Linked DNA regions of Homo sapiens. The protein of the gene in region 1 purifies or fractionates together with the protein of each later gene. This does not show direct contact. Each region holds a gene or a part of one and is shown on either strand. Other genes may lie near its edges.

What was found. Proteins that work in one complex are often made in the same cells at the same time.
Region 2: the proteins of ZNF467 (region 1) and PRP4K purify together in Homo sapiens (affinity purification with mass spectrometry; one large-scale study listed by BioGRID and IntAct). This does not show direct contact.
Region 3: the proteins of ZNF467 (region 1) and ZFC3H1 purify together in Homo sapiens (affinity purification with mass spectrometry; one large-scale study listed by BioGRID and IntAct). This does not show direct contact.
Region 4: the proteins of ZNF467 (region 1) and TFB1M purify together in Homo sapiens (affinity purification with mass spectrometry; one large-scale study listed by BioGRID and IntAct). This does not show direct contact.

What each region holds. Positions count from the first base shown.
Region 1 is NC_000007.14:149,762,572-149,768,156, forward strand, and holds the end of ZNF467 (zinc finger protein 467), read right to left. Parts: intron 3,669-5,585; coding exon 2,143-3,668; 3' UTR 2,108-2,142; coding exon of another isoform or gene 1,929-2,107; 3' UTR 1,611-1,928; downstream 1-1,610. UniProt on the Homo sapiens protein: Transcription factor that promotes adipocyte differentiation and suppresses osteoblast differentiation in the bone marrow. Enhances the osteoclast-supporting ability of stromal cells.
Region 2 is NC_000006.12:4,062,392-4,066,548, reverse strand, and holds the end of PRP4K (serine/threonine-protein kinase PRP4 homolog), read right to left. Parts: 3' UTR 1,566-4,157; downstream 1-1,565. UniProt on the Homo sapiens protein: Serine/threonine kinase involved in spliceosomal assembly as well as mitosis and signaling regulation. Connects chromatin mediated regulation of transcription and pre-mRNA splicing.
Region 3 is NC_000012.12:71,631,784-71,636,348, forward strand, and holds part of ZFC3H1 (zinc finger C3H1 domain-containing protein), read right to left. Parts: intron 3,798-4,565; coding exon 3,660-3,797; intron 3,043-3,659; coding exon 2,921-3,042; intron 2,522-2,920; coding exon 2,372-2,521; intron 1,656-2,371; coding exon 1,481-1,655; intron 1,235-1,480; coding exon 1,103-1,234; intron 732-1,102; coding exon 189-731; intron 105-188; coding exon 1-104. UniProt on the Homo sapiens protein: Subunit of the trimeric poly(A) tail exosome targeting (PAXT) complex, a complex that directs a subset of long and polyadenylated poly(A) RNAs for exosomal degradation. The RNA exosome is fundamental for the degradation of RNA in eukaryotic nuclei.
Region 4 is NC_000006.12:155,303,420-155,307,984, forward strand, and holds part of TFB1M (dimethyladenosine transferase 1, mitochondrial), read right to left. Parts: intron 1-4,565. UniProt on the Homo sapiens protein: Mitochondrial methyltransferase which uses S-adenosyl methionine to dimethylate two highly conserved adjacent adenosine residues (A1583 and A1584) within the loop of helix 45 at the 3-prime end of 12S rRNA, thereby regulating the assembly or stability of the small subunit of the mitochondrial ribosome.

The sequences.
Region 1 (5,585 bases):
AAAGAGGACAACTTCCACTCAGCTCCAGCCACCAGTTGCCAAACCTTTTGCTTTTTTCACAACAGAAGATGGAAGTCCAGATTTTTATGTGACATTTCAAGATATTTAAAATAACCTGGAGTCACCAACTCATTCTTGGCCACGAAACTTATAAACACGCCTGCATTCATGCATCCTCTGACAGGCCTCCCAGCCAACGCCCCTCCCTCACCTGTGTCCAGGTCTCATTGTCTCCTACCTTCTCTGGGATTTTGCTTTTGTAGTTCACCATTGTGATCTGAATTCTGACCCAGCTGCTCCTGATGCTGCTGTCACCGAGACTGGATTTGCTTGCAGCGACATCCAAAGGGTTTGGAAGCCCTTCGCCTAGGTGACCTCTCTCTAGCCTCCAGCGGCCTCCTCCTCCCTGAAGCGCGTCTTTCCTCGGCTCCTCTATCACCTCTACCTGGGGCTTTCCTGTCCAGTCCTTGCACCTGCACTCTCCAATCTTGTTTACAGGCCTCTCTCGGTGCCATCCCCTAATGTTGGTGTCCCAGAGGCTTCTGTCCCAGGCCCCCAATTTCTCACTCCACACTCAGTTCTTTGGGAAGATCATCCGCTCCCCCATAGCTTCAGAAGCACATGCGGATAGTTCTCAGCTGTATGTCTGCAGCCTGGCCCTCTCCTGAGCTCTCCACCCACACAGCCTCCTTCCTGCTGGGCACACACTGCTCACAACTCAGGAGACCCAGGACTACTCCCCCAGCACAAAGCTGCCCCCAACACCGAGTCTCCCTTCTGGGAGTATGCCACTGTCATCCAGTCAGTGTCAAACAGAAATCGGGCTGAGCTCATTGATTCCCCGACCCACACTAGTCAACAGGTCCTGTATCCTCTGCCTATTAAGTGTCTCTTGAATCCATCACTTCTCTGTCTCCTCTGACACAACTATGGTCCCAGGTCACCACAACCTGTCACCAGGACAACTGATGCGCAGGCCTCCAATTTCGCTCCCGAGTTGTCTAGCCAAACATCTTTCCAAACTTCAGGAATGTGAGCGTGGCCCTGTTCCTGCCCCGCCTAACCTTGCCATGGTTCCCCCTCCCTTGGACACGGTCTAAACTGCTTCACAGGTGTGAAAGACCCCTTCATCTCTCAGGCCACTGCTCTGGCCTCTCATCCCCGCTCACTGGGAAATGAATAATGCTGCGCTCCAAGTCCCACGAGAGGCAGAGGGGGGTCAAACCCAAGACTACTCACTGCAAGCTCCATAGGCTCCCCATCGTCCTACCCTCCCCGTTCACGGCCAGGCAGCCCTAGCTCTCATACCTGCGTGGGCTGGAGAAGGGCAATACAGAGACTTCTGGACCCAGCAGCCTTAAGAAAGGACTTGTTGCAAGTGCGATGTGAAAGCAACCTTCATCTGCAGTGGATGTGCCACCTCCTTCCTCACGCCACCGAGCTCCGAATCCCCCAGGAGAGTTGCGGAGACCACACAGAGCTCCCAAGCCCACGCCAAAGGACGGCCTGCCCCCCTTCAGCTCTAGTCGGTGACACGTGGCGTGAGAGAAATGCACCCCAATCTTCCTTCCTTATACTTCCGAGCTAGAAGCAGGAGCCAGGATGGTGGCTTAGTGAATAAATATATTACATTTTTATTTGGGAGAACCAATTAACAGCAGCTGGCTAAATGTAACTCACCCAGGACAGAAGGGGAAGTGGAGGGGGGTGGTCTGTGTGTGGATGGAGGTGGGACAGTGGCTAAGGAGAGTCAGGTGTTCCCTCCCCCAATTCATTTAGCAGCCCCAGAACTTTCCGATTTTAACTTTAATGAAACTTTAAGTACATAAATAACCACTCTTTCCTGCCCTGGTTGAGGCCGCGCTGGGTCCGGGAAATATCTGCTTTCCAACGGGGCACCTGGGTGGGAGCCTTCCAAGAACTTCAGCTCAGCGGTTCCCAGCAAGGGTTCGCTGAGTCTCTGTCCTAGGAGGTCCGAGCTGGGTATGCTGTGCGGACGCAGACACTGCGGGAAGGAAACAGGTGTCCCGCGGCGGCCAAACCTTCGGGCAGCAGCCCAGGTCGCCTTGCTCACCCCAGGCGGTCTCATGGCACGGGCCTCTCGAAACTGTGGGCAAGAAAGGGTCCTCGTGAGAACTAGGCTCAGAAGAAGAGCGGGGGCGGCGCCACCTCGGGGGGAGCGGACCAGGCTGGGGCCGCAAGGGCGGCGTCCGGGGCCGCGTGGGCGGCTTCGCCGTGAATGAGCTGGTGCCGCACCAGGTGGGTCTTGCGGCTGAAGCTCTTTCCGCACTGCGGGCAGGAGAAGGGGCGGGAGCCTGTGTGGATCGCCTGGTGGCGGACTAGGTTGGTTTTGGAGCTGAAGCTGCGGGCGCAGACGGCGCAGGCGTGGGGGCGGCTGCCAGTGTGCACCGCCTGGTGGCGGCCCAGGTGCGACTTGCGGCTGAAGCGGCGGCCGCACTGAGCGCAGGCGAAAGGCCTGGCGCCGCTGTGGGCCCTGGAGTGGGCGACCAGATTAGGCCGCGAGCCGAAGCGGCGGTCACACTGCGTGCAGGCGAAGGGCCGTTCGCCCGTGTGCACGCGCGGGTGCCGCGCCAGGTGCTGCCCATGGGAGAAGCCGCGCCCGCAGTCCGGGCAGAAGAAGGACCGCTCGCCCGAGGGGGCGCGCTGGGGCACCACGGGATCGGATCCTGGGCCGCAGCCCGGTCCGCCAGGCGCGCTGGCCAGGGGCTTGGCGGCGGGGGCATCCACGGTGGCGCCCAGTGCGCACTCATCGCACCCAAAGGGGCGACCCTCGCTGCGGTGCAGACACTGGTGCGTGGCGAGGTTCTTTTTCCAGCCGAAGCTCAAGCCGCAGTCGGAGCACGCGAAAGGCTTTGGCCCGGGAAAGGATGGGGTCGGGGACGGGGCAGTGGAATGAGGAGAAGCGGACGAGTCGGGAGAGGGCCTGGCCGGGCCGGCCGTCTGGTGCACCCTTTGGTGCCGCACCAAGTGCTGCTTGTGCGTGAAGCTGCGTGCGCACTGTGCGCACTGGTAGGGCCTCTCGCCCGTATGGATGCGCTGGTGCCGAATCAAGTGCGTCTTCTTGCGAAAGCGCTTCTCGCATTCCGTGCAGGGGAAGGGCCGCTCGCCGGTGTGGGTCTTTTGGTGCGAGCCCAGGTGGATCTTCTGGCTGAAGCGCTTGCCGCACTCCGCGCACGGGTAGGGCCGCTCGCCCGTGTGCGTGCGCAGGTGGCGGGTCAGATGGGCCTTCTTGCTGAAGCGCTTGTCGCACTCGGAGCACGGGAAAGGCCGCTCGCCGCGGTGGCTGCGCTGATGCAGTAGCATGTGGGCGCGCTGCGTGAAGCTGCGGCCGCAGTCCGGGCAGGCGCAGGGGCCCTCGCCCCGGTGCAGCCGCTGGTGCAGTCGCAACGTCAGCTGGTCCCGGAAGCGCCGCTCACACTCCCCGCAGCCGTAGGGCTTCTCCGGCATCGGACCCCACCCAGACAGCGCGAGCCCACTCAGTGCCCCCGGGGCCCCTGGCTCCAGTTTGTACGCGGCAGCCAGATGCCCCAGGTCAGGCGCGGGAAAGGGGCTGGGAAGTAACGATAGATGCTGGGGCCATTCGACCTCCTCTTCTGCCTCCTGATCTTCGTCCTCCACCTTCACCTTCCGAATCATCCACTCCTCTCCTGGAAAGTCAAAACAAGAATTGTCTATTGAGCTCCACGTGCGGCAACGTCTATTTAACCACAGGATCTCCACTTCCTGGAGCCCCGCGGTCTGGCTCTGCTCTCCACTCTACCTAACGCTTCCCGGGAGTGACCAAATCCGCAGCTCTTCTCAGGCCCCCTCCTGCATTCTCCTGAACCTGTGATGCGTGTGAACACCACACGGCTCCCGGGGGCTTCTTCCCCGGCCTGGATGTGCCCAGGAGCCCTCCAGCACCCCTGAAGAGGAAGGTTGCCCAAGTTTCAGTCCTCCTGCTTCGCTCCAGGTTCACATCCCTTTGGTGGCTGGCCCAGATCTTCCTGCTCCAGCAGTGCCTTTCTGGGACCTCAGTCTCCATCTCTGGTCCAGCAGCTCTCCTTGGTACTGCAAACTGGCCGCAGCTCAGCAGCTTTCTCACCACACACCTGAGCTTCCCAAACTGAGCCCTGGCTGACTTTAACCTTAGGACTAGAGCCTCCTTCCCTGGTGGCCTTGAAAACTTGATCTTTGACATCTCACCTGGGCTGCTTCTCTTGCTCTCTAACCCCTACCCCCAGCCCACCTTACCTCTAGTGGCCACGGAACCAGGGTACCCACGTATTCCTGCTACTCCCTTCTTTCCTGCTGGACAGCCTGAGGAGAAGTCCCATTTAGGAAGACCACGATGGAGTTTACAGGGTCTGGGGAACTAGTGAACACTGGCTCTGGAGAAACAGGGAAGGCCCTCTAGGGAAGCCTCAGCCTAAGGGCAGGTTGCAGGGGATTCCGCTGGAGTGTTGCCCCTGTCGGGTGCTGCAATGGTCCAGCCTAGAGGAAGGAGCCCGGGGTCCAGACGGGAGGGTCCAACTTAGGTTCTCCTCTGTCACTAACTAGGAGTGTGACTTTGGTTCAGTCACTTAACCTCTTTGAGTTACATTTCTTAGTCCGCTAAGAAAATTTGCCCTTTGTGTAAGAGTTGGACTAGTTTAAAGCTCCCACGCCTGTGCTGCATCATCAGCTCCTGGGAAACGTTGAGAAAATGCACAAATGGGGGCAAGGCCCACGAACGTGTTCTCATCTTTAAAGCTCCCAAAGTGATTCTCATTTGTGAATCATTTAAGCAGATAATTTGGGTTCCTGTCTGGCCTGAGCCTTGATTCCATCACACGTGGACTTCCACAATCAGAGGTACTCCCAGTTTCTTCTATCAGTCCATTGATTCCAGACCCCTGTCTACTTATCACACTGTGATACTGCTTTCACCTTCATTGTGGCACTCTTTACTTTTCTACTCAAGAACCATCAATAGCTCCTATTTATTTATTTTTAATTGAGTCAGGGTCTTGCTCTGTCTCCCAGGCTGGAGTGCAATGGGACGATAATGACTCATTGCAGCCTCAAACACCTGGGCCCAAGTGATCCTCTTACCTCAGCCTCCCAAGCAGCTGTGACTATGGGTGTGCACCAACATGCCCAGCTAATATTTCTTACTTTTTCAGAGATGGGGTCTCGCTGTGTTGCCCAGGCTGGTCTTGAAATCCTGGCCTCAAGCAGTTCTCCCACCCCAGCTTCCTGAGTCGCTGGGATTACAGGCATGAGCCACAGTGCCCAGCCCAGCACCCTATTATTTGAAGATAAAACAGGTTCTAGCTGCATCTGAGGCTCACCCCACCCTAGTCCAACTTTCTTTCTCCCAGGCATGGACCTTCCACTTCAGCCAAGCTGCTCTCCTCCCCTTTCCTGCTTCAAGATCTTCTCAGCCTAGAACGTCTTCCCATCCTCCACCCCACCCCTTTCAGAACTGAAGTCTACACCTTTCTTAAAATGCAGCACAAATTAATGTTTTTTGACAAATTCCCAGTGCATGCGGATCTTTTGGCATAAACTCCTATAGCACTTACTGTTAACACTTTTGTGCT
Region 2 (4,157 bases), on another chromosome or scaffold:
TCTGTCGCTAGGCTGTCTAAATTCGAACCCAGACTCCTGCCACTGAACACCTAACACCTTTAGCAGTTTCCTTAACCTCTCTTGCTTCACTTTTCTGATGGGTAAAGTGGGTAGACTGTCTTTATCTCATATAATCATGTGCGGGTTAAATGACCAGCAGCAAAAGTGCCTGGCATATACAAGTATTCACAAAATACATTAGGGAAGTAAGAATGACACAGGAGGGCAAACCATCTCGAGAATGGACCTCCTTAGCACTAGTTAGGTGCAGAACAATAATTCCTAACAATGTCCTGTTTCTTGCAGGGCATGTGCCAAGGCACAGGGAAATGGTACGGTGCAACAGACACAAACCCTTTCAGTAAGACTAGGCGTGGGAATGGGCATGGGAGATGGGACTGAGACCAGAAGTGGCAAGTTTTGTAGGGATTAGAGATGTATCATCTCAAATTTATCCTGTAGACTGACAGGGGAAAAAGACCTGGTTCAAACAGGTGAAGTGGGACCCACTTGTCTACATATGTAGTGGACAAAACTGGAGACATGAATACAAAATATTTGGCTATTTTTCATACTTGGTGGAAGTCAACGCCCACCATTATCTTTAAATAAGAAAACATTTGGCAGTTTATAACACACATATAAATTCTGTTCGGGAAAACCTAGTTTGCTGATAAATACCCATGTTTAGCTCTCCAGTCATTGATGGTCCTCAGCTCACTGGATCTTCATGAGGTTGAATCTTTCTAATTAGAGAAAGTATGTGTGGCCGGGTGTGGTGGCTCATGCCTGTAATCCCAGCACTTTGGGAGGCTCAGGCGTGTGGATCACCTGAGGTCAGGAGGCGGAGGCGAGCTGTGATCGTGCCACTGCACTCCAGCCTGGCGATAGACGGCGAGTCCGTCTCAAAAAAAAGAAAAAAAGAAAGAAAAAAAGTATGTGTGAAAGGTCCTTAACCAATACATCCTGCATACTATTTTCCCTAAAATGTACCAGATACAATAACCTCATAGCCACTTTAGATAGTTATGCAGTCTAACAAAATTATAACTGGGGCCTTTACATGAAGACTATCCAGAGCCAGTGCCATTTGACCATTTCTCAGCCCAGAATCAAGCATACTAGCTTCTACCTGCCACTCTGCGGTGGTTAGCTCCAATGGGGTGGGTGGGTGCATTCTACAAGGCCATTCTGCCTGCCTTATCTGCTTTGCATGCACTAAGATTCACAAACTACACTGTGAATCTATTTTACTCACTGTTTTGAAAAGCCAAAAACAGTTCCTTAAAAGAAGAAAATAAAGAGTGGGTATACTGAGGATAAGAGCCCAAGATTTGTCAAGCTATCATGTGAGCAATGAACCAATTTATTTTTATCATTATAAAAACAGGAGTTGGCTCATTACTTATCTGTTTCCTTTACTAGGAAAACCAAAGCAGAAATGTATGTAACAGGAACACGAATATAATACACTCTTTGGTGTTGTGCACCTAATGCTTTGAAAATGTTTTGATGTTTGTGAGGAAAATCTGAACTCAACCAAAGAAAAAAACCAGGAGACAATATGATAATAAGAGGCATATTTTATTCAGTTTCCCAGTAAGTCAATTAGAAACATGCACTGCTAAAATGCAAGTTACAATTCAAATGGTACCATAAATAATTAGAGTACACACTGAGCATTTTCAGAAATCAGCTTCCATATCTTGATCACTAAATGGAAAGGTTCTTCAGAACAGTCCCTTACCCTATATACAGAAGGAGAAGAAAAATTAAGGATGCCATAATGACATCTATCAGAATAACTGGAAAACATTTTAATTTAGCATACATTATTGACATGTAAAAAACACAAATGAATTTGTCGTGAACATTTCTATAAGGAAGACATTCCATTAGGAGGAGAATGATAAAATTCATGTTGAATATATGCTGGAACTAGGATACTATTAAGAAAGAAACACATTTATGAAGCCCAATTGGTAAAGATGTCATTATAACTAAATGAGGAAAATTACATATTTGAATATATGGCTTTCTTTCCTATCTTCAACATTCAAAAGGGCCATTTCTTAACTACTTCGCCTAAATTTTATCATGTTGATTCCTTTGTTTCATCTCAGAGATTTTATTTCTACCCCATATAGCTAGAGTTCTGCTTACAAATGATAAAATACAGGTAAAGCATAAGAGGAATGCAAATATGGAACAAAACTGAGAACATTACATTTTACTTACTCTACCACATACCATAAAACAGTACATAAATATTTCATTTTGAAAAAAAAGTCCTGAGTACTTATTTTTGTTAGGAATAAAGTGGTACTTAATAATGGCAAAACATTTCTATTATTTTAAAACAAAATTTTGAGACAGTAGAGTGAAATGAGATAGCTATCAGGGAATGAAGAAAACAGGATGTATTAATAACGATTTAAGGGTGAATATAAGATGCTCCCCCTGCTCAAAACCTCGAAATTCCAACCTCATTTCTGATGATCTTCAAGAATAAAGTCTATCCAGAGTGTAAAAAATGTCTATGCTTTCCAGATCTCAACTATTCTCCCAACCCTAGAAAAAACTGTAACATCTTTGAGAGCCGTACCTAACACTTCTATGAGCCCTCAAGTCTGACAATCACTTGATATCACTTTTGCCATAAAGTATAATAAAAGCAAAAAATTCACGGCAGATAGCATTTGAAAAGCATACAGCTACTCTAAAAGAGGAATGCACATTTATTCAGGAGCATTCACTAAATAAATTCAATCTAGTAGGTCTTGCAGAGTTCCAAATTGCACCTCAGCAAAATTACAGAGTGTAGGAAAATCATGTAACGTACATAAGACAGTTGATAGGGTTCCTTTCAAATAGGTAGTCTAGATATGCTAAATTGGGGAGTATAAAAAACCCAGAGTATCTTTTTCATTTCCCTTAAAAAAAATGGCTCTGAATATTTTGTCTACTTTAAGACTGGAACACTGGTTAATAACGAGGTTTCTACAGGGTAAGTTGGGGAACAGATACTAAAGGAGTTGAACAGTATTCTTAATATTCCAGTTTGTATTCTTTTGCATCTGCCTAAAGCTGAAGACTACTTTCAGATATATGCTATTCTGGTGGTTGCTGTTTTTCTAAGAATCCTTAACATCCAATTTTGACAACCATGTGTTATGTGGAATCTCAGCATCCAGCAGCCTTTTATATTACTAAAGTTGACCACTATTTTTATTTTAGGGGAGGAGAAACTGGGGGAGGGGAGAGGCAGGAAGTATGATAAAACAAGCACTTTACAGACGCACTCCACAACAGCACTAATTCTAAATACCAAACACCAATAAAACCCAAATCATAATGCTGAAAACTAAAAAATTAGACAAAAAATAAATGAAGGATTGTTTTTTAATAAATCTTTTATAGGACAGAAACCTTAGCTCATGTCTTCTGGTTGTCATCATCTTCCACTGAGCTGCACCTAAAACACAAAGAACAAGTAACAAGCAACTTTGTTTTTTAAAGAACAGGTAACAGTTTTGAAGGTATAAGATGAACTGTTTCTAGTGGAACTTACTTAAAAAATTACATAAAATGAAGCCATAAACATCACCAGAAGCATCAAATTGTCAACTACTTTGGGTGAAAATAACTACAAGAGACTTGAATATGCAGCATATTATCACCGAAATAAATAATGGTGGGAAAATCACTACCCATTTCATTAAGGTAGAATAGCTGCACCTGTGACGCCTTAATTAAAAGGCTTCACTCTACCTGAAGATGAAAATCACCTTGTATTTATTTTAGTAAGTCTAAACCGTGAAGAGACGGGGTGTAGGTTCAGAGGTGGCTTATTATATCATCTATCACCTTCCTGGCTGTAGTTCATTTCATGTCTTTAAATGGAGCAAAACCCACCAGAAGAATCAATGCTGCTATTCTGATTTTCCATTCTTGAATGCACCAAAATGTGCATGCTTGTTGTAATTAGGTGCCTGGGTGAATAAAAAAATCCCATTTACAATTTAAAAATATTATTTAAACCCCTAAAATCTGATTATTTTCCATATTCCTCAGGGAGACAAGCATTAATTTTACCCCCCAAACAGCAAAGATTACATATATTTCTGAAAAATTCTCTTCTACCATGTTAATAATAC
Region 3 (4,565 bases), on another chromosome or scaffold:
GACTTAAAAACTAGAAGAGGACTATGGTAGGGTCTAAAAGGACATGGCTTCACTTCCATTGTTTTACTTTGTGCTGTGACAAAATCCACATCTACAGAAATCTCCTGCAAAAGAAAATAATAATTCTGTAAGGCAAATAAGGCTGGGTGAATTCCAGATTTTAAAGAAAATATGAAATGTTCAGTTACCTGACCATGCAAAACCTTCTCTGTAATGCCTGTGGTGGTTTTTAAAATCAGCTGTTTTAGGCTGTCAGCTTTTGAATACAATTTTTGCAATTCACCAATTTTTAACCCTAGAAAAAGTTCTGGTTTTTCTACAGTATTTTTATTAAGTTTGTTTATGCATTCTTTGTTAGCAGTATCAGTGTGCTTAAGGTTAGGTTTAGTAAAATAATTGGATTCTAAAAAAGATCTTCTTCGCTCTCTGCTTGAACCAGACAAAATTTCATCATCAACATCATTTTCTTCAGTGTCCAGGGTTAATTTATCTTGTGTCAGATCATGAAGTGAGGGTTGAGGTAAAGAAAATTCGGGTTCCTCTTCCACAACTGGAGAGATATTTTGTTGTTCCTTTGCTTTAAGGGCACGGGCTTCTTTTAATTTTTGAATTTTCAGGGCATATTCATATTCTAGCTTTTGTAACCGTCTTTTCTCCATAGCAATTAGTTCTGCTGAATGCTTTCTTGGACTTGATACTGGAGAACTGTCCAGTCTCATCATTTTGTTTGGCTAAGGGAGAAAAATGATACACGTATTTTACATCACTGTGATTTTATAAACAATTTTTGGTAAGATAATTGTGCTATCCCCACCATACAATGCCAACATTATAAAACTAAATCAATATGGAGAATAAAACAGAGTTTAACATAAGTAGCCAAAAGTTTTGCTAGTTAATCTATGACTTATGACAAAAACAAAGTCAAGACAAAATAATAAAGTAGACATCCAAAAATGTGGATGTCATTTAAAAACAAAGCTTTAATCTTAATCTCTTGGAATTTACAGCAAAGAGTTACTTTATATATACATCTTACCCTTAAAACTATCATAAAAACTTTCTGCTTTCCAAAAGTAAAATATTTCTATAAAACCCTCACCCCAAAGCGATCTTGTTCCAGTTTACGTTTTCCTATTTCTTTACTGGCCACTGCCTTTGCCCGAGCAAGCTCTTCTCCATATTTTAGAGTCAAAGCTTTCTTAATTGTAACACGCTGTTGAACTCTGTGAATCTGAAAAATATAGAATAATCCTGAAAATGTAAATGAAAACCTTAAAACAGGAAATTTCTTCTTCTCAAACACCGTGGCTTTTGAGCATTCAACTGAAAATAAAAATATTCCAATATTATTTCTCAACAAGAAACTATAGGTTATGCATATTTTGCTGGCTTTAGTATACAGTGGTTTGTCTTACAGAAAATTTGGCCTATAAAAATGTGTAGTAAACAGGAGACTACAGTATTTTAAAATAATTACTTGTTCCTGAAGCTTCTTCAAAAACATTCTGTTAACATTAAGAATTTTTTCAGTTGCTTGAAGCTGTTCTGTAAGTTTTGTAATCTTTGCTTCAGCATTTCTAACAGATTCTTTCTTCTTAGCTTCTTGTTGCACTAAATTCTTTAAAACAGATTCATCTTTCATCAAGAGAATCCTAAATGAGAAATAACAAAATTCTTGTTAATGTTTCCCTACAAGAGCAGACTGTCAGAATAAAAAAATTTTCAAAGTAATAACACAATTTTTAAAAATGCATCTACGAGACACAGATAAAAATGTAAAGGGATGAATATTTTTATATTCATCACACAGGTATTTAAATTAACATTGCTACACTGATAATAGTAACTATGAGACTGATCTTTTAAAAAAAAAAATTTAAGCCTGAGGTAACGTGAATTACTGTTGAAAACTTGTAGTAAATATTCAACGTTGGGCCAGGCACAGTGGGAATGCATTTCCCTAGTTCAAGCGATTCTCCCGCCTCAGCCTCCCAAGTAGCTGGGATTACAAGGCATGCACCACCATGCCCAGCTAATTTTTTTGTATTTTTAGTAGAGACAGGGTTTCACCGTGTTGGCCAGGCTAGTCTCAAACTCCTGATCTCAAGTGATCCACCCACCTCGGCCTCTCAAATTGCTATGATTATAGGCGTGAGCCACCGCGCCTGGCCGGTATTTTTATTTAAACATTAATTTCATTACTTTATGTAAATGTAGTGTCATTCAACAAAATGACAGACTTCTACATTCTACAAAGTTTAAGTGAGAAAATGTATAATCTTATAGTACGCTTATTAATAACATACACCACAAAAATGTATTTCTCTACCACAGGAACAATTAGATATGTGAAGATAACAAGGCTCACCTATGTTTTTTCAGTTTTGATTCTGCATCTGTAACCTGCTTAGTAACCATTGCTATCCTGCCAATACCATCAATTTCCACATCAGAGTTTGCTGGGGATGATGAACTTGTCTTCAGCTGATCTGATTTAATCAAACGCTGTTTCTCACGGCTAAAATTATCAAAAAGGATATATGCATTACACCCAAGAATAAACTTAAACTATTTTTAAAATGTATTCTATTTCATGCAGTAACAATATTAATCACACCGACTAATAATAAAGATGATGACCAATATGCAAGACCCAAGTCAGCATTCAAAGTTGATAGTGGAGTCCTTCTCTTTGAGTGTTTTCATCTTTTTTCTAAGCTGGTTATGTCCTAGCACATCACTCTATTCAAGTGTATGTATGACCATCCAGCACCATCTTCTGTGTGAGTTATAAAACATTAACTCTGTATCTTGGATAAAACTATCATCACTCATTCCCCAGTGCCAAGAAACTCTATAAGAGAAGTTTTGAAAACATCACATACTTTTAATGTTAATTACATAAAATTACACTTACTTGGCAATCTCTTCCTTTAACAATCTATATTCAATCTTCTTTTCTTCAGGCAAAGCCTCCGGTGTTCGCAGAGGATCATTTTCTTTTTCAGATTTTGGAGGTACTTTCGGTTTTGAAGCTTGCTAAAAAAAAAAAAACATTTGAAGTCAACTAGATCATCAGCTTTCCAAAATTCCATACTAAGATTTATATTTTACATTGCAACCCAGTGTATACTGAATTTATTTAGAAATACCTGAATGTCATCATTTTCTATTCTTTTTTCTAAAACAATGTTGGTTGATAACTACTAAATTGTATACGCCACCAAGTAGTGAAGATCTACAGTCTGAAAATCATTGAATTAAATCACAGCTAAACAACTACTGAAATAGGGAAAAAACGATAAAAGTTGTACTTAGAGAATACATTTTAATAAAAACTGTTTTCTGGTAACACAACACAACTCTAAAACAACAGTCTCCTTACTACACAGAACAATTATCCAACCAATTTTACTATTTTGAAAAAGGAAATACTTAATAGGAAACACAAATAATGGAAACTTTTAATAGTAAAATCAATCTACATTGATACATGCTTCATTATATAAAGTCCTAATAGCACAAATACTTAAAATATTTCCACAAATCAATGTTATTAAAAATCTATAACTTTATGGTTTAATTTTCAGGAAAAAATAAACTTTACTGATCATCAAAAGGTCATCTTTCTTTCCACCTTTAATTATTGCACTTACCTCAGCAGTTCGTCTTGCTTCTTTAATCATGGACTCTAATCCACCAAAAACACTATTTGTTGACTTGGAAGCCTCTCCATCAGATTCACTATCATCTGAATCATTTAGTGTTACAACCACTGATTTATGCTTTGGAAGCTGCAAAGACAATATATTTATTACTCGTGATAACAAAAGGATGTCATTTAACCTTGTTCAATTTCAATCCACAAAAATAATGGGCTCCAAGTAGACAGTCTATGGCTCCTTCTAGGGTTGTATTACATAATCCACTGAGTCGACCAATACTGGTTATATGACTGAGACATAAAATGTTGTATATTCTTTAAGACTTTCTATTCTATAATTACTCTCATTAAAATTTTATTTTCACTAACTTTCTATTATAAAGAACCACAATGCAATTTAAATTAACTCTTTTAAAACCAAAGAAAAATTTTGTTAATTTTACATAATAATTATCAAAATTCTGTACTTTGTGGTTACATATAGAGGGTAAATTGCCAAAACTGGCTTACCTAACAGGAAAGATTTCAACTTGTCTTTGTTCTATTTATTTTACTTTGAAGCCATTACAAAACAAGGTAGAAACAAACTATCATTTCAACCTCCTTAATAAACATCATAAATAATTTCTTCCATCATAGTGTAGTCATTGGTTGGAAAACATACACAAAGTATACAAAGAGATGGGAGAAATAAAAAACATGCAATTTGTTAAAATTTTGACTCCAAAAAGATAGAAAATCTGAATGAGCCCATTTCTATAGAAAAAAAGCTGAAGAAATGTCAGAGGAAAGTACACCACTCTGATGAAAACAATACCTCCCCCAACACACTATCACCAAACTCTTACCAGTTTTCAAGTGAAGGTGTTGCTCTCATTTTATCATTAATAAATTAAAA
Region 4 (4,565 bases), on another chromosome or scaffold:
TACTTCTTACAGTTGTCAGTGGGCCTGCTTCTACCACTGATCTCCGTACTTATACTTTGTATGGACTAAAAAGTCACTTTGGCTGTAAGCCACTTTTTGCTTACTTGTTGAGTTTTGTCTATGTTATGATTAACTATGGTAACATCAAGTAAGTTACATGTGTAAAGTAAATAGTTACGTCACAATAGCAAGGAAGGCAATCTTCCTTTTTAAAAAAATTGTTAGAGATTAAAGAATTTCAAAACTTCATTATCTCTAACTAAAAATAGCTCTTTCTGCCTGGACGCTGAAATTACCTCATATGTCTCTTAATAAGATGACTGGAAGGGGAATAATTAAAATAGCAACTATTACTGGCTACTGGGATTATGCCAGGCTCTTTACATCCATTTCTATCCATCTTTGCAATATCCACAGAAGAGAACTATTATTCCCATGCTGCAGATGAGAAAGTTGAAGCTAAAAAAGGTTTAACAGCAAGCTTAAGGTCACAAAGCTAGTAGGTGGCATATCTGAGATTTGGTCACTAGACTATTTGATGCTCAATCCCATGAACTTTCCACTATGCCAATGAAGTATGGAAATAACCAGTGTTTACCTATAAGAAAACCCAAAGGTTAGGAGGCCAAGGCAGGTGAATCACCTGAGTTCAGGAGTTCGAGACCAGCCTGGACAACATGATGAAACCCAGTCTCTATTAAAAATACAAAAAATTAGCTGGGCATGGTAGCGGGCGCCTGTAATTCCAGCTACTCGTCAGGCTGAGGCAGGAGAATCGCTTGAGCCTGGGAGGTGGAGCTTGCAGTGAGCCGAGATCACGCCACTGCACTCCAGCCTGGGCACCAGGAGCGAAACTCTTGTCTCAAAAAACAAACAAACAAAAAACCAAAGGCAATACTAACAATACAATGACTTACTTTCTCTCTCCAAAAATTCCTCAAAACAACCACATAATTTAATGGTTAAGAAGAATCCTGAAACTTCCTACTCCGACAAAGATGGAGTCTAAGGGACCAGGCATATTCTCCTACCTTAAACCAATTTAAAAAACAGAGAAAATAGATGAAACAAAATTTTCAGACATTAGACAACAAAAAGCACAGGAAAACCTACAGATCCAAGAAGCTCAATGAATTCTACACACAAGAAACACGAACAAAGCTACTGTAAGCACATCATGATGAAATTGCTCAAAAACAGTAGAAAGTATCAAAAGCAGCCAGAGAAAAAAGAACAAAGGTAAGGATGAAAAAAGATTTGTCAGAAACTTTTTGCAATGCAAAAAGTTTGTCAGAAACAATGCAAGTGAGAAAATGGCGGAGCAACTTTTTTAGAGTAATAAAACAAAATACTGCCACAATATTTTCCAAAAATGAAGGCAAAAATGAAGGCTTTTTCAGTCTTCAGTCTATAGTAATAAATACAGGTGGCTGTTGGTGAAACAATAGACCTATAGATAAATAGAACAGAATTGGAAGTTCAGAAATAAACCGACACACATAAAACCAACTGATTTTTGACAATAGTACTAAGGCAATTCAATGAGGAAAAGACAGTATTTTCAAAAAATGGTGTTAAAAAAAGAACCTAAACCTTACCTCACACTATATGCAAGAATTAGCTCAAAATGTATCAAAGACCTAAATGTAAAAGCTAAAATTATAAAATAATTTTATATTATTTATATATTATATATTTATATATATACATAATTATATATTTATATATATAAATATATATTAAATTATATATTTATATATATATTAAATTATATATTTATATATATATTAAATTATATATTTATATATATATATTAAATTATATATTTATATATATATTAAATTATATATTTATATATATATATTAAATTATATATTTATATATATAAACATATATTAAATTATATATTTATATATATAAATATATATTAAATTGTATATTTATATATATAAATATATATTAAATTGTATATTTATATATATAAATATATTATTAAATTATATATTTATATATATAAATATATATTAAATTATATATTTATATATATAAATATATATTAAATTATATATATAAATATATATTAAATTATATATTTATATATATATTAAATTATATATTTATATATATAAATATATATTAAATTATATATTTATATATATATTAAATTATATATTTATATATAAATATATATATATTAAATTATATATTTATATATATAAATATATATTAAATTATATATTTATATATATAAATATATATTAAATTATATATTTATATATAAATATATATTAAATTATATATTTATATATATATTAAATTATATATTTATATATATAAATATATATTAAATTATATATAAATAAAACAAATTTTTAGTGATCTTGGTTTGGCAAATATTTTAAAAATAAGACATAAAAAGCATAAAGTCTAGAAGAAAAAACTGATAAATTGCACTTCATAAACATGAAACTTCTGTTCTTCAAAGACATTGTTAAGAAAATAAAAAGGTAAGCCACAGCTGAGAAAACATTTGTAAAATCTGTATCTGACAAAGCCTCACATCTGAACCATATAAATATCTCTTAAAATTCAATAAGACAAAAAAAGTAAAAGTACTAAAAATATTTGAACAAATAATTCCCCAAAGAAGATACAAAGATGGCAAATAAGCACATCGTATGTCCAGTATTATTATCTATTAGGGAAATGCAAATAAAAACCACAAGAGGATACCATTACATATTCACTAGGATGGCTAAAATTAAAAAGACTGACCATACCAAGTCTGAGCAAGCATGTGGAGCAATGGGAGCTCTGAAATACAGCTGGTGGGAATGTAATATGGCACAGTCATCTTATAAAACAATTTGGTATTTCTGTAAAAAGTATAATATACGTCTACCACAGGACCCGGATATTCTACACAGGACCCGGATATTCTACTCCTAGGTCTTTACTCAAGAGAAATGGAAGTGTGTATCCACACAAACACTTGCATATGAATGTTCATAAAAGCTTTATTACAGTATAAGAGCCAAAAAAGGGAAAAACCCAAAGTCTATCAACAGGTGAATAGATTCACAAATTTGGTATATTCAGAAAATGGAATGCTATTCAGCAATAAAAAGGAGCAAACTACTGATAAACACCTCAACATGGATGAACTGCAAAATAATTATGCTAAGTAAAAGATACCAGACCAAAAAAAAAGTACATATTGTATGATTCCATTTATATAAAATTCTGAAAAATAAAAAATAATCTACAGTGACAGCAGATTAGTGGTTGTCTGAGATAGATAAAGGGGGAAGGAAGGGACAGATTACAAAGAAACATGAGGAATCCTGAGGACGATGAGTGTTTATTTTCTTGATTGTGATAATGGTTTCATGCAATCACATATATGTCAAAACTCAGTTAACTGGACGCGGTGGCTCTTGCCTGTAATCCCAGCATCTTGGGAGACTGAGGTGGGCAGATTGCTTAAGCCCGGGAGTTTGAGACCACCATGTAGAAATGGTGAAATCCCATTTCTACAAAAAAATACAAAACTCAGCCAGGCATGGTGGTGTGCACCTGTAGTTCCACCTACTCAAGAGGCTGAAGTGGGAGGATTGCTTGAGCCCAGGAGGTCAAGGCTGCAGTGAGCTGTTGAGTTGTGCTTGTGTCACTGCACTCCAGCCTGGGTGACAGAGTGAGACCATGTCTCAAACACATACACACACACACACACACACACACACACACATATACACACAGACAAATCCTCAGTAATTTGTACACTTTAAGTATGTGCAGTTTACTGAGCATCAACTGTATCTCAACAAAGCTGTAAAACAAAGTGTATTAGCTCGTTTTCATGCTGCTGCTCATAAAGACATTCCCGAGACTGGGCAATTTACAAAAGAGGTTTAGACTCACAGTTCCACATGGCTGGGGGAGGCCTCACAATCATGACGGAAGGCAAGTAGGAGCAAGTCACATCCTACGTGGATGGCAACAGGCAAAGAGAGAGCTTGTGCAGGTAAACTCCCATTTTTAAAACCATCAGATCTTGTGAGACCCATCCACTATCATGAGAACAGCACAGGAAAGACCCACCCCCATGATTCAATCATCTCCCACTGAGTCCCTCCCACAACACATGGGAATTACGGGAGCTACAAGAGGAGATTTGGGTGAGGACACAGAGCCAAACCATATCACAAAGTATTTACTGTGATAAACTCTCCATAAATATTAGCTATTATTATTTTTAATATATGAAGCCTTTAAAACAGTGCTGTGCAATTGCAATCTTTTGGCTTCCCTCGGCCACACTGGAAGAAGAACTGTCCTGGGCCACACATAAAATACACTAACGATAGCAGATGAGCTTAAAAAAAATGCAAAACAAATTTCATAATGTTTTAAGAAAGTTTAAGAATTTGTGTTGGGCCGCAGGCAGCCCGTGGGCCGTGTGTTGCACAGGTTTGCTCTAAAATAAACAGAAAAAAAAAAAAAATGAGAGGAAATCTGTACTACTTCTCTGAAAGGGTACGAGTGATTTACGAATTTATCTCCAG